Linked DNA regions of Homo sapiens: region 2 is linked to region 1. Evidence: fine-mapped expression QTL. Tissue or cell type: monocytes. Region 1 holds a variant in brackets; the other region holds the start of a gene. All regions are shown on one strand. Distances are between the middles of the regions.

Region 1 (2,741 bases):
TGAGAAGTTAGGCATCCATATGGTCAGTGCTGGAGCTGGCTTTGGAACCCATACCTGATGGACTCCCTTCCCTTACCCAGTGCTTGGCACAGCGCTGTGACACACGCACACACACCCTGACAATTAAGTGCATATGTTCCTAGTAGTGCACTAGCTGTGTCCCCAAAATAGCATCTTGTATAGCAACTACCATGATATGAGGATTTTAAAATACATCATGTTTCAAGGGATGGGTAGAGTCACATGCTCACTAGGAAGTCAGCCAGCAGGCAGACAGCTGGTGCAGGGTGTAGAAACGGGCATTTTAAGCTTTGACACTGGGCTTCCTTATTTCTCCGCTTCTCTTCCTCTTCGATAACTCCCTGCCTCACCCCACTCCCAACATGCCAGGGGGCTCTTTGCAGTTCTCATGGAGTTGATTTGACCTCGGTTAATGAGATCTAATCATTCAGAGCAGGGCCATGTGCCCAGATGTGAGCTATGTGATTGTTCCTGGCCTTGGAATGGGGCAGAAAATGGGGCTGCAAACCAGCCCTGCTGGCCCCCATTTCAGGGTCCAGACTCCTCTGAAGAAGGCTTGAGCCACTGGAGCAATGTCTTCTGGTAATGAAGTCATTCCTCCGTGGAGACAGAATGAGGCCTCTGTGAAATGAGAAACAATGGGCATGTTGAGTTCCCGACCTGGGGTGAATCGAAGCTTAGGCAGAGGCACATGGGATGAATTGGGACAATTCAAGGGATGCATTCTTCATAGACAAGGTTCTGTTGTCAACAAGTCCACTCAGTTGTAATGATGCTTAGTTAACGGTCATTAATGTCTTTTAAAAATAATTTCCCCAAGTAAGTCATGAACTCTTAAGGTTTTTTTTTTTTCCCCTCTGAGTTTTAATTAGTGTAAATTATTTTGTCTAAAAATCACCCTGTGAAAAATGGATAAAGTATAGGTATGGGAGCAATGTTTTGTTTATTCTTTTACATGTGATTCTTTCCTATTTACCTATGAAGCAAACACACTTATGTCTCTGCTAGTAATTTAATTTCGAGGAAATAAAAGCGGGGTGTTGCTACTCTCTACTGTTAAGCAAAAGCGCTTGGTCCAAGTTTCTCAAAACTTAGCTCACCTAGTACCAAAACAGCAGGCAAAAAGTCTTGCAAACTTAAAAACAAAACAAAACATCCACTAATAGAGTTGATTGCCAGTCTTGCCTCCTCCTCTCTGGATCCCTGTGCTGTTTGACTTTTTCCAGTAAAAGATGAGGGAGCGGGAGCCCTGTCCTAAAAGTGCAGCAGCAACCAGGACAGTGCCCCCTGGGTTGGGAGCAGGACCTGGCACTGGCCGCCTCCTTCCATGGTGCTCCCTAGAGATAAGGTTAACTGCCACATAGAGTTCTAAGTGCAGTGAGGTCAGGAAGAACTTGAAACAAACGCAGCCAGTGCAACAACCGCCTGGCATGCTAGCCAGGCCCGGG[G/C]CTTGCTGGCAGGGTTCTGCGGGCACGGGCCGGACTTGGACGGTGTCGCTGCGCGGCGGGAAGGCGGGGCGGGGCCTGGCGGCGCTGCTAACCGCCCTCCCTCTCCCCTAGGTGAGGCCGCAGGCGGTGCTCTGGGTCCGGGAGCGCTGTCCCCAGCATGAACGCGGCCGGCGGCGGGAGTGAATGACTGCAGCTGCGACTTCCTTCCCGGGCCGCCCGAGCCTCCTTCCCCACCGACTTTCTTGTTTTGATTAACTCCGTGGACTCCTGACTCTTTCTTCGCCCGGAACATCAATATGTGTCATGTCATTGTCACCTGTCGCTCGATGCTCTGGACCTTGCTGAGTATTGTGGTGGCTTTTGCCGAGCTCATTGCCTTCATGAGTGCAGACTGGCTGATCGGGAAAGCGAGGAGCCGCGGCGGCGTGGAGCCGGCGGGCCCGGGCGGGGGCTCCCCGGAGCCCTACCACCCCACCCTGGGCATCTACGCCCGCTGCATCCGGAACCCAGGGGTGCAGCACTTCCAGCGGGACACGCTGTGCGGGCCCTACGCCGAGAGCTTCGGCGAGATCGCCAGCGGCTTCTGGCAGGCCACAGCTATTTTCCTGGCTGTGGGAATCTTTATTCTCTGCATGGTGGCCTTGGTGTCCGTCTTCACCATGTGTGTACAGAGCATCATGAAGAAAAGCATCTTCAATGTCTGTGGGCTGTTGCAAGGAATTGCAGGTAAGAAGGCAGGACCCCGGGCACGGTGGGATGGAGGGATGGAGAGCTGCCGGTGCAGCGCACTCTGGTACTGGGCATTCGCTTCCTGCTAGTTTTGGAGAAGACCACTTTCTGTCTATTCAGGTTTCCTTTGCCCCTTCCGTTCTAGGCGACGTTTGTGTGCTGCTCGCATGGGTCTCTTTCCCCTGTCTTACCCCACAGGAAGACAGGCTTGTTCTCTGGTCTTACGTGGTCCTCCTCATTGCTTATTTCCTCGGGGTCTAAGCTGTTGGTTTTAGTTTGAGTAACTACTCCTGCTTTTTGTTTTTCCCATTAAATTAAAAGCATGCTCTCCACTTCAGTGCAACTCCCTGAGGAATTATGGAGAGCGTGAGTCCCACCTGCAGCAAGCACTTTATGCTAAGAGGAATGTAAGCGGGGGCGCTCATTAAGAAGCAGCAAGCCTGCTTTCCGCATCCACTCTCAGCTCCAGCCCCCAGATGATTTCAGCTTGGGTGGGAAAGACACGGGCTGGGAAGGAATTAGTATCAGCTGCTCTGTGTTTAG
Region 2 (2,755 bases), 140 kb before region 1:
GCCTGCGCATATGGATGCAAGTGTAGAGAGGACCCCAGCAGAGAACCGGTAGGAGGCCGCTCACGCCATCCAGTGCCAGATAGCGAGAACCAGAAAGGCGGCAGTGGGCTTGAAAGGACATGGCACCTGGAAAGGCATTAAAAATGAAGAACTAATGGGACTGGCTACCGGGAGTGGAGGAGCGAGGCCCAAAATTGACTGCTAATCTGAATCTGGGCGACTGGTGGATAGAGGTGTCCCAGACAAGGGGCTGAGAAACTGGGAATGGGAGCATTTGACTGGGCGGGGGGCGGGGGGGTGGCGAGGGGTGGAATACAAGATGGGTTTGCCTAGAGAGGTGCCACGTCCTAACAGTTCAATCACAAACAATACTGGCACCTGAATTCATGGCCATTTAACTCTGTTCTTTGCTCCCAGCCCTGGGGGCGGAGCTGGGGAGTTAAAGCATCCCCTCTCTGGACAAGAATGCCTTTTCAGGCTGTTCCTAAAGCGCCTCCGAAAATCATCCTGAAACCGTAATTTTGAGGGCAGGGAAGCTGAGGACACCAAGCATTCTATTTAGGAATAATCTTTGTGACTGTTGGAATTGAGTTTCCACACCTAGATATTCAGAGGGCACGGGAACTTATGTCCGGAGCCTCCTCTCCGGAAGAGGGCGGCGAGGATGGGGGTCCAGGCGCCCCTTGGCCCCTTTCCCGTTTCGGACTCTCCGGGGTCACCAGACGGCCGTTCTTTCCGCTTGGGCCCGGGTCTGGGGGAACTGCTCCTAGCGCCCCGGGGCCCGCTCTCCGCCGGAGCAGCCTGGCCTCTCTCCCCCGGCTCCGTCAGCGCCGCTCTCCGCCTCCGGCCCTCCCGGCAGGGCTGCTCGAAGCTGCTCCGGGAGCTTCCCCGGTGCGGCCCGGAGGAACCTCGCAGGACCCCGGGAGACGCCGCCGCCGCTGCCCGGCGGGCTCAGGGACCGGTTCCCAGGCCCCCACACCCCCTCTCGGGGATCCCCTGTCGCCGACTCCCTCCCGGACCCGCAGGACACTCCCCTCCGGAGGCCGGGCCTGGTCCGCCCGCCCGCCGCCCCCGTCCCGCCCCGCGCGCCGCGCCGGGAGCCCCGAGCCCGACCCCTCCCCCGGACGCCCGGCCCGCTCGCGGGACGGAGGCGGCGATGGTGACTGGGCAGCGGCGCGGGGCCGGGGCCTGGGCAGGGCGGCTCGGCCGCCTCTTTCTCTCGCTGCCCCCGCCCCTCCTCCTCCTCCCTCTCCCCGAGTGCTAGCCCGGGCGGCCGCCGAGCTTGGCGCTCTCTCGCCTCGCTGCCTCCTCCCCCGCGCCGCGGACCCTCTCCCCTCCCTTGCGTTGCCCCCCTCTCCCGCCGCCTCCTCCCGCTCTCCTCTCGCTCTCCTCCCGCCTCCTTCTTCCAGGCGCGGCCAGCGGGGGCAAGAGCGAGGTGGCTGCGAGGAGGCGTCACTGAAAGCCCTGACTTGGGGAAGGCTGCGGGCTCGGAGCCGGAGACGCCGAGCTGGGGCCGGGTGAGTGGCAGGCGTCGGGCCCGCGCGCGCTGCGGGAGGGGAGAGCCGGTGGGCCCGGCCAGGTGGGCGCCCCGCGCGGGCGCATGGGGAGCCGTTGCGGCCGGCCGAGCCCTGGCTGCTTGAGCCGCGGCTGGCGCGGGAACTTCGCTTCGGCGCCCTGGGAGACCGCGCCGAGCGGTCGGAGGTGCTGCGGGATGGGCGTTGGGTGCTGGGAATGGGAAGGGAACAGCTGCTTCTCAGCGCCGCCGGCGGCCGCAGAAGTGGAAAAAAGTTGTGCCGGGAACAGCGTCTCCTCGGGAAGCCGGCGCGAGCCCTGCTCTCTGGGCGTCGCTGGCGGGCTTCGGACGGCGGCGCGTGGGTCCCAGGCGCAGCTGGGCGCCGGGTTCCAGCGCGCCTGGCACCGCTCCCTGGGGGCCGCCCCGTGGTCGCCCCTGCTGTCCCTGGTCCGTGGCGTGTGGGTCACTCTGGCCACAGACGTCAGCTGCTTCTCAAATCTGGACTGCATTTTTGTGGGCAGCTCAGTGATTTGGGGTGCGGGCTGGAAGAGGTGGGCGTGGAGTGGGGAAGACCGCATCTGGGATGGGCGGCTTGAGCCCACGGGCTGGGCAAAGGACTGGGGAGACTCTGCGTGTGTTTCTGGATGTTTTTAGGCACACAGTTTTTTTTTTTCTTTTCCCTTCCATTCAGCGGCCCAGTGTTCTTCGAACTTAGAAAAGCAAAGGATTTTCTTCAATCCCGTTCGACTTTTCTGTTATTTCAGGATGGTCATGAGTTCCATGAAAGTCCATGTGCTTGTTTCAATGGGAGCAACACCAGAGTAAAGACAAAGTCCTATCCCCACCCCCGTCCTCGCCTCCACCCGGGCCATTTCCTGTATGTCCCATTTTCTCTGTTGTGATTGTGCGAGTGTGTTTGTGCATGTAGGTTACCATCGGTGGGTGACCTACGTGGAAAGGAGAACTCTTTGAAATTGCAACGCGGCCGCTATGGAAAGTGTGTGCTGGAGCCGAGGGAGGAAAGATTCCGGCGAGCCAGAGCTGTTAGAGGCTCACCCCAGAGAGGTAAACCGGAGTAACTGAGCTTGAAGGGACATTTATAACCTGCACATTGCTTTTGCCTTACCCCTTGGCCAGAGAGCTCCACTCCTGCTAGGTTTAAGAGAGGATCAGATACTGACTTCTTTGATGTTGACTTTTGCTGGTATTCCTGATTCTTTCCTACTGGTTCTCTTTTAGAAA

What was found. PIP is the estimated chance that this variant, and not a neighbour inherited with it, causes the effect.
Region 2: it holds the start of LHFPL2, and the variant in region 1 is fine-mapped to the expression of LHFPL2 in monocytes (TOPMed, PIP above 0.99).

Annotation. Positions count from the first base shown.
Region 1 is chr5:78,509,238-78,511,978 of GRCh38, reverse strand. LHFPL2 (LHFPL tetraspan subfamily member 2) reads left to right here. Exons shown (of 5, transcript NM_005779.3): 4 at 1,581-2,195. The coding sequence starts at 1,766. Among named protein-coding and RNA genes, the nearest start is that of LHFPL2, 140 kb to the left of the region's middle. RefSeq lists silencers at 1,578-1,627, 1,908-1,997 and an enhancer at 1,240-1,861. The variant G/C (reference allele first, on the strand shown) is at 1,470.
Region 2 is chr5:78,647,261-78,650,015 of GRCh38, reverse strand. LHFPL2 (LHFPL tetraspan subfamily member 2) reads left to right here and starts at 1,244. Exons shown (of 5, transcript NM_005779.3): 1 at 1,244-1,517. RefSeq lists silencers at 706-1,645, 1,936-1,995.